2 separate regions of the Homo sapiens genome follow, and region 2 is reported to be linked to region 1. The links are microRNA targets in miRTarBase. Many come from high-throughput screens and were not tested one by one. Region 1 holds a microRNA gene; the other region holds the end of a gene's coding sequence.
The links. The annotated mature microRNA hsa-miR-6735-5p reads CAGGGCAGAGGGCACAGGAAUCUGA and lies in region 1 at 1,178-1,202, opposite strand. An mRNA with a match to its seed (bases 2 to 7 or 8) in the 3' UTR can be bound and repressed. Matches are read on the target gene's strand: a 7mer-m8 pairs with bases 2 to 8, a 7mer-A1 pairs with bases 2 to 7 and ends in A, and an 8mer does both.

Region 2: miRTarBase lists TMPRSS5 as a target of hsa-miR-6735-5p. Seed matches in the 3' UTR shown: 7mer-m8 at 2,434-2,440 and 7mer-m8 at 2,426-2,432.

Annotation. Positions count from the first base shown.
Region 1 is chr1:43,443,806-43,449,745 of GRCh38, reverse strand. MIR6735 (microRNA 6735) reads right to left here and starts at 1,207; the gene lies at 1,135-1,207. SZT2 (SZT2 subunit of KICSTOR complex) reads right to left here. Exons shown (of 72, transcript NM_001365999.1): 63 at 3,762-3,852; 64 at 3,487-3,567; 65 at 3,330-3,404; 66 at 2,578-2,791; 67 at 2,048-2,201; 68 at 1,775-1,897; 69 at 1,262-1,667; 70 at 1,018-1,134. It overlaps SZT2-AS1 (SZT2 antisense RNA 1), which reads left to right and starts at 1,102. Exons shown (of 2, transcript NR_046744.1): 1 at 1,102-1,643; 2 at 1,814-1,970.
Region 2 is chr11:113,685,484-113,688,483 of GRCh38, forward strand. TMPRSS5 (transmembrane serine protease 5) reads right to left here. Exons shown (of 13, transcript NM_030770.4): 13 at 2,067-2,791. The coding sequence ends at 2,777. LOC107984390 (a long non-coding RNA gene) reads right to left here and starts at 1,027. Exons shown (of 3, transcript XR_001748391.2): 1 at 1-1,027.

The DNA.
Region 1 (5,940 bases):
TTATGTCCATCTGCTCCCTAACGCTCTGCTTGGTGATCCATCCCGGGATGATTTGCTCTCCCAAGGCTTCAGTTACCGCCTGTTCACAGAGCTGCTGCCTAGGACTCTCCTGAGCTCGAATCCCTGATGCCCACAGACCTTGCAGACAGTGAAGGGCCTATGGACCCCAGACTCAGCTTGCCCCAAGCTGGGCTTGTCACCCTTCCCCAAAACCCACTCCTGCTCCAGCCTTCCCACCACCCGCAGGAGCACCTGCCTCCATTCACAACCGCCGACACTACTGCAGCCTCATCCTAACTGACCTTGGCTTCTCTGGGAGACCCTTCCTGCACCCTGAAATGAATCCTCTGCACAAGCACTGTGCTGCAGGACCCCTCACCTGGCTCCACCTCCTACTTTCTCACTTGAAGTCTTCTCTTGTAATGCCTCCTCTCTTGAACCTCAGCTCTGGCTGGGCCCATCTCTGTGGGCTCCTTAATGCCCTGTGCTCGTGTCCACCACCACAGTTCTCTCTACCTGTCCTTTACAGCAGTGCTTTCACGCCTCAGTGTGCACACAAATCACCTGGGGAGACTGTCAACCTGCAGATCCCGAGTCAACAGTCTGAAATGTGGCCGGAGAGCCTGCATTTCAGCAAGCTCCCAGGTGCTGCGGCTGCTGGTCTGTGGACCACACTTTAAGTAACAAGGCTTCAAAGTCCAAGGGGTCCTTTCTGGGGCTCCAGCCTACTGACAAAGTTCTGACAGCTCCTTGGGTTGTCAGTTCCAGAGCCTGGCCCTCAGGATCTCAAGCCAAGGCTTGTATTCTTGGTGAGTCTTTGAGGGCAGAGCTGCTCAGAGAATCACATGCTGTAGCTCGATGCCCGGTACTGGAAGGGTTTTACATGTATCTGTGTAGTCCCGTTCTGTCTAGGCCTCCCTCCAGAGCAGAGCTTGTTTGGTCAGGCTGAGGGGCACATCTGTTTGGTGAGGATTTCTGCTGTGTTTCCCTTTTCAGAGGAAGCTCAAGGGGACTTACCAGGTACTGAGTTCCCAAGTCTGGGCTTTGGAAATGGCGACAGCTCTGGGGGAAGCGGCTTAGGAGAACTTTGATCAGGCTCTGGTACCAGGAGACCGTCATGGATAGGAAGCAGTCCTGAGGGAGGAGCCACAGGCCTGAGTCTTCTGTGCCAGTCACCTCAGATTCCTGTGCCCTCTGCCCTGGCTGCCAGTGGAATTCCTGGCACCTATCCCAGCTCTTTCGGGAGCCCACAGTTCCTTACCAGCTGGGGGTCGATGTCCCCAATGGATTTGGCATGGACTGCTTCTAGGAGTTCCTCCAGCTCTGCCAGGGCCAGGCGCCCCCCTAGCCGCAGTCGATCAGGCCCCGGTGGCTCCAGCAAGAAGAGGCGCTTCCAAAGGGTGTCCCGACGGCAGTGCCCTCCAGCCAGCCGCACCAGCTGAGCCAGCCGTGCTCGTGCCATGCCCACCTCTGCAGCCAGTGGTGGGAACAGAGGAGCCGGTCCAGGCGCTAGAATAAGCCCTGAGGCCTCCCCAGGGCTGCCAGCTGAACTCCCAGGAGCCTCTGGCTCAGGGGGCAGTCTGGGTGGCTTCCGGAAGCGGCGCATGTCAGCAGTGAGCCTGGGGAAGAGCTCTCGCTGGCTGGTGAGCACCACGAAGAACTGTAGCCTGGGGTGGGGAGCAGGGCAGGAGAGTGGTGGTTGTAGCAAGAGACACACAGGGCAGGGTGGGGCAGGCTGGGAAATGGGCATGTTCAAGGTAGGGGATCTGCTGACCGCAGAACGTGCCGCTCAGCCTCTCCTTGCTCCTCAAAGGGTGCAGCACAGTGACAGACAAGCAGAGACACATCAAAGTCATCCTGGTGTCGAAGTCCCTCAGAGTCCAGGTAGGAGCCAGAACTGTGCAGGACGGGTTGGGGAGATGTCAACTCTGGGGTTCTAATAAAACAAACCTCACCCCTGCCCAAGAAAACATTGGTCTCCCTACTGCAAGTATGTCCCAACCCCAGCTCCTGCAGCGTGCATGCTGGATGCCCCTCTCAGCCTTACCTGTGCCATGCCGACACCAGGGCATACTCGTTGTGTTCTGGGCCCCCTGGCCGGGCCATTCGCAATGGCTTCATGTGGTAAGAGCTGGCGTGATCAGCCACGTAGTTGTATAGCTGGTGGGCAGCAATGAGTGGTGTGGGGAGCTCCAATGTCCCTGAGGGATAAGTAACAGGAGACAGCAGACACTAAGCCTAGGACAGACACACTGGTCTGGTGGGGCACAGGGATGGGAGTCTTTAAGGCTCTGACTGGCAGGCAGAGTGGGTCTGCTTTCCTTAGGAGCTCCTGCATTCCTGTGGAACACTGAGATGGGACAGAAGTGACTCAGAGGGCAGGGGACATGTGACATGGGGTCCAAACTCTGGTAAGAAACAGACACAGGACAGAAACATGGGGACGTGGTATGTGTGACATGAGATGATTAACAACATGGGACCACTTGTCCAGGGAGGTGGTCCCACCAGCCCTGACCTGGAGGCACCTGTGGCCTGTTCTTTTTTGGGTTCACTGGCTTGCCCTTGGGCACTGACCTTGGTAAATGTGATTGCGGCCAAAGTGGGGTCCGTCAGGGTGGTGGGCCAGGAAGTGTCGCAGAAAGGTGGTGAGGTGGTAGCCGTGCCGCAGCACCAGATGGGCACCTAGCACGTGCTGATGCACGAGGCGCAGATGGAAGTCATAGCTGAACGAGTGCACGTGCATCAGGTCCCGCACCTTGTCACACTCCTCTGTGAACAGCATGGACAGCTGGGGAGGCAGCAGCAGGAGACAGGGTTAAGGTATGGCTGCACTGGCTGCCCAAAACACATTTCCCTCCTTCCGTGGGAAGAAGCACAAGATTTCCCCTGCTGCTGTGGCCTAGTGGAACGCCCTCTGCCAGAATGGTTTCTGTGGGAAGGCCTCCCCATTCTAGCCTCCCTTTTTCATACTGTATTGTAACTATCTCCATGAAACTAGGGCCATTTTCAGAAACTGGGCCATTTTGCTCTATCCCAGATTCCATCAGGGTCTGCCACAGACTCTAGATGACTACAGGCCAGACCAGGCACTGTGCTGCCTCAGGGCTACAGCTGAACACGCTTTGGATGACCGATGGGGTCAGCCTTGTAGTGAGTGCAGTCATGGCACCAGAATGAGCACTGACCTAGCCAGGCCATAGCAGTGAATCAATCACTGGGCCAGCCCGCCTACTGCATTACTCTACTGCCCAGCAAATGGGACATGGAGCCATGCTGCCCACAGCACACTGGGGTGCACTGACTGTGCCCGCAGCTCATTCACATACCTGTGAGTTGACAGCCTGCCCCATTGGGATTCGGGAACATTCCAGGGCAAACTGTTTGACACAGAAGTAACAGCCCTGGAGGGAAGGTGAAGATGAGATCAGGAAGGCGAGAGACAGGTGGGTCTGGCTGTCTCCACTCAGTGCTCCTCCTGCTTACCTGGAATGCCAGTTCCATGAGGATGATGCCCCCAGGCAGTGCCCGCTGCAGGTGGTAGGTGGTTACCGGAGAGCTAGTGCTCTGAAGAAACAAAAAAGGGGGCAAGGTTTGGGGGCTCACCAGCCTCGAATCAGTAGGGTGGAAGTCCCTTGGACCCTGACTTTAATGGTGTCAGTCTGGGATCAGTGACCTCGGTACATCACTCAGGGTCAATGACCTCAGGCCGTGGGAAAGTAATTTAGCATCAGTAACTTTACCATTATATGACAAGTTACCTTGGGGCTCCCATCAGTCTTGGTTTTAGGGCAGGAGAAGGAGCCTCGACCCTCTGTTCCAAGGATAGCCATGGCCCGTGGCCGGCTGGTGCTATAGAAAAGGAGGAGGGATAAGAGGATGAGGCAGGCTAGTGGCATGCAGTCATGGTGATCAGACCCAGAATCTGTTTTATATGGAATCATTTTGCAAGGGAGGAAACAGACCCACAAAGCTGCCACTGTGAGTGGCAAGGCTGGGCTTGGAGTCCAGGTCTAGACTGCAAGGCTGGGCTCTCTCCATAGCAGCTGCTGCTTCAAGGGAGGCAAAAACAGTGCTCAGTGGGGAGGTGGAGACTAAGCCTCTGCTACTGAGAGGGTGTGTGCTGGGCAGGAAAGAGAAGGGGGAAGGTGATGCCTGTCTACAATTTGATTAGGAAAATTCAAGGAGATGCTTGATGCCTGGTTAGGTACCTTCCTCTGAAAGGGCAAAGCTGCTGTCTTTTGATTGGGGGGGATGGCAGTTCCAGGCTTTCAGAGGCCTACTGCTCGTTACAGTTTAGTGCAGAGGATAGGGGAGAAGGGAAGCAGGGGAGGGACTGGGAAGAAGGGACAGAACAGAAGGGGTTGGGGGGACCCACTCACGCCAAGGGGCTATAAACTGCCAGAATTCTTGCTGGGGGTCAAAACCTCTGGTGGAAAAAATGTCCCATTTAAACCTCAAGGAAACTGGGACAAGACTTAGTGATTGGTGATTGTTAAAGATTGGTGGGAAGGGAAGACCTGGCTTTAAATTTTGCTGTAGAAACATTTTTTTTTTTAACCCAGTGTCTAAAGGAATTCAGATTTGGGGGAAAGAGCATAACTTATGGCAAGTGTGCAAACTAAAGTCCTTTAGAGAAGCTCCTAGAGCTGGGAACTGGCTGTCAAGATAGCAAGCTGGGCAGCTCCTCCCCAGGGTAGGAGGGGCCAGCCTGGCCTCTGAGATGGGATCACAGGAGGGGCAGGCACGCCTTCTCTTCCTAATGCCTGGAAGAGAGGGAAACCTGGGGAGTGGGGAGCTGGTCACAGAAACATGAGAGAGTTGGAACTGGCATTTCTGGACTACTGGCTTGAAAAGGTTCTAACTGAAAACAGAGAGGAGGGAGAACATGCCTTGATAAACTCACAAATCTGGAGACACGAAAGTAGCTATGTGTAAGGTGAACAGCTCATTTTTCGCATACAGCCACTGGGAAAGGGCAGAGAACACAGAATCTGGAGAGGAACATAGAGCAGGGGCCACAAACACGGGAATCTGAGATTTGACAGTGGATGAAAAGGTGGCTGCAGAGTTGTCCCTGAGCTCAGGGGAGATGGAGGTGGCAACAGACGGGCTGCCTACTTCCCAAGACTCAGACCTGTCAGTACTGGCCAGTGGGTGAACATGACCAAGAACAGGCCAAGGACAGTGATGCAAGTAGGCCTAGCACAGAGGTCCTTGGTGAGAAAAGGACTTCCCTGGGCCGAGAACTACATCAAATCTCAGGAGAGGTCAGTGGGATGATAAGGACAGGAATCATTAAGTCCTAGATCCAGAGGCTTAGGAGCATGTACAAGATTCACATGTGCAGGCCGGGCGTGATGGCTCACACCTATAATCCTAGCACTTTGGGAGGCTGAGGTGGGCGGACTACCTGAGTTGAGGAGTTCAAGACCAGTCTAGGCAACATGGTGATACCCCATCTCTACTAAAATACAAAAAATTAGCCAAGCAGGGTGGCGTGCACCTGTAATCCCAGCTACTTGGGAGACTGAGGCACAAGAATTGCTCGAACCCAGGAGGTGGAGGTTGCAGTGAGCCGAGATCGCGCCACTGCACTCCAGCCTAGGCGACACAGTGAGATTCCATCTCCAAAAAAATTCACATGTGGGGATGTATGCAAGTGTGTAAGTGTACAAGATGTGTGTGGGCATGAGCTTTGTGAAAATGGACACAGTTTTGTATGAGTGTCATCATGAGTTCCATAAAGCATACAAGGTCTGCAGGACACGCATGAGGGCTGTGTGAAAGTATCTGAGACCCTCACATGAGTGCAAGCCTGGTGGGATAAACATGCACAGGCCCAGCCCAAATTGTCAACATAGGACCTTGTAAAGAGAGGAAGGGCCTGTGGGGCCTCACTTGCAGTGCAGGAGGAGAAGACAGAAGGGAAAACAGGGA
Region 2 (3,000 bases), not on the chromosome of region 1:
TGAGCAAGTACCTTCCAATTCTATTCTTCTGTGCAATACTGGACCATCTCATTCATTCATGTGCATGACAGTAATGTGGATTTAGAGTAAAAAGACCCACGGTTGACATCCTGGCTCTAGTGCTTACCAGCTGGGTGGTCTTGGGGGAGTCACTTAATCTCTCTGAATTAATTTTCTTATCTGGAAAATGAGGACAATAATAATAACATCTGCACCACATAGATTTGTGAGCTCCCACATATGGGCATGTTTTCTAAACTGTAAAACACTATTCAAATGTTACTGAGTATTGAAAGACCTTGATGGCTGTAATTTTTTTAAACTTCCCTTTAAATATGCAAATGATTATGATTGACATCAGAAACACAAAAAAGATCACAGCTGCTGGATTTGCTGTTAACTTATCCCTGCCCAGGGGGATCTACTACCCCATCAGTGCCTCCTGAGGCAGGGACTTAAGGGAGCTGGGCAGTAAATGTTGATCCCAGGGTAGAGGCTGAAGGTCTGACCTCCAGGGACACAGGGCGAGGCTATTTTGCCATTCAGCAGAACTTCTCCCACGTTGCTTCTACAGTTTGACAGCAGACTCCCAGCAACTACTTCCCTGGTTAATAAACTGGCAGTAAATTGAAACCTTCATTTTCTAGTGCACTTCATGTAAAGGGAGCAGACCCTCTAGAAATGAGTAATCATTTGTACAACTCCTCAAAAAATATGCTGATAAACTCACAAAGTTCTGTTATTGCTAAACACTAGTTGCATTTCCTTGGGTAAGCACCATAAAAAATTCACTGCAGTTTTTAGAAAGAAGATGCCAGTCACATTTTAACTGCTAGAGAGGAGAGAGTTGGGGAGAGGCTTACCCAAGGAAATGCTAACTGGGCATAAAACTCAAAAAGAGAGGCCAAGTCAAAGGCCCAGTTCCAAAACAAGAGCTAAGAAGGAGAGATGGGTCCAGGTGCGGTGGCTCACACCTGTAATACCAGCACTTTGGGAGGGCGAGGCAGATGGATCACCTGAGGTCAGGAGTTCGAGACCAGCCTGGCCAACGTGGTGAAATCCCGTCTGTACTAAAAATACAAAAAATTAACCAGGCATGGTGGCTGCAGTATGCCTGTAATCCCCGCTGCTCGGGAGGCTGAGGCAGGAGAATTGCCTGAACCCGGGAGGCAGAGGTTGCAGTGAGCCAAGATGGCACCACTGCACTCCGGCCTGAGTGACAGAGCAAGACTTCGTCTCAAAAAAAAAAAAAAAAAAAAAAAAAGGGGAGAGAGAAGGAGAGATGGGCCTTGCAGGGAAACCAGACCTTCCCAAGAGAGCATTGACTTAAGTGCTTCTCAGACTCAAGATCTCAGAGCACCTGGATGGCTAAGGCTTTTCATTGCAGATCATGACATGTAGATTTTTTTTTTTTTTTTTTTGAGACAGAGTCTCACTCTGTCACCCAGGCTGGAGTGCGGCTCGGCTCACTGCCATCTCTGCCTCCCAGGTTCACGCCATTCTCCTGCCTCAGCCTCCCGAGTAGCTGGGACTACAAGGCGCCCGCCACCATGCCTGGCTAATTTTTTGTATTTTTAGTACAGATGGGGTTTCACTGTGTTAGCCAGGATGGTCTCGATCTCCTGACCTCGTGATCTGCCGGCCTCGGCCTCCCAAAGTGCTGGGATTACAGGGGTGAGCCACCGCGCCCAGCCAACATATAGATTTAACAAATTTAAAGAATTAAACAAACCCCATTTCTACAAAAGATACAAAAGAAGAATTAGCCGTGTGTGGTGGCATGCACCTGTAGTCCCAGCTACCAGAGAGGTTGAGGTGGCAGGCACTGAGCCCACAACATCGAGGCTGCAGTGAGCAGAGATGGTGCCACTGCACTCCAGCCTGGGCAAAACAAATAAGCACAAACCAAAATTCTCAAGTAGATGAACAGGAGTCAGCACCAAAGCTTCAATATGTATAGAAGATAGAAGGAAAATTGTAATTCTACCCTGTAATATGTGTTTGTGTCTGTCTGTCTGTCTGTCTGTCTTTGTGCGAGTGAGAGAGAGGAGACAGAGAAAACTGGACCAAGACCATATATCACTTTAATAACAGAACTCCTTGGACCAGTTCACAGAACTGTCATTTAAAACCAATGTCCTAGACCAACTCCAACCTTCTTGTTTTCCAGTGTACCCACCCCACACAGGGCCAGCCACAGCCAGGTGAGAACAGGAAGGGGAGTGGAGAGGGAGAGTGGAGAGGGTCCTGACTCCCATAGGCTTCATCTGGGCTGGCCCAGCCTTGACCCCATCTGCCCAGGAGCCTCTCAGCCATGGAGTCCTCTAGGGAGGCACTTAGCCCACCTAGAGCACAGGAAAAAGGTGGGACGGGGGGCACCTCCCAGCACCCTCCCAAAAGACTCACACAGGGGCAGGGAGGGGAGAGGGCAGAAGGGCAGGCTTCCTGCTGCTTCTAGCAGCCTCTTCATCTCCAGCTCCTACCTCTCTCCTCCCCCTCATCCCTCAGCAACCACAGCATGCCCAACCAAGTCCCAGCCTCTCTTCTGTCATTGAGTCTCTAGTGAGAAAGAGGACTCTGAAATCAGGGCCCAAGAGGAGAGACCTGTTGGCTGGGTGGCTGGCCAGTGGGTAGTGACTGTTCCTCACACACAGTAGTAGGAGGTCCATGCGTTCTGTGTCGGAGGCTACTGCCTCTCCTCCATTAGTGGAGCTGCTGGAGGCCCCAGGAAGCATGAGGCAGTGGTGTGCAGTGAGACTGGAGGAAACAGCAGGACTCAGAGGAGGGAGTCCTAGACCAAAAGGGAAAGGAACTGATTCACAGCATGGCTCTACACTAGCCAAGCGACTTTTATTTTAGTAAATCACTTAACCATGCAGGGCCTTGATTTTCACTTCTATCAAATGAGGCTAAAAATATCTGCTGCTCAAGATTTTTTGTAAGATTTCTTTGAGAAGATCAATACATACATTCCCTGTAAACTCCGAATGTATTATCTAC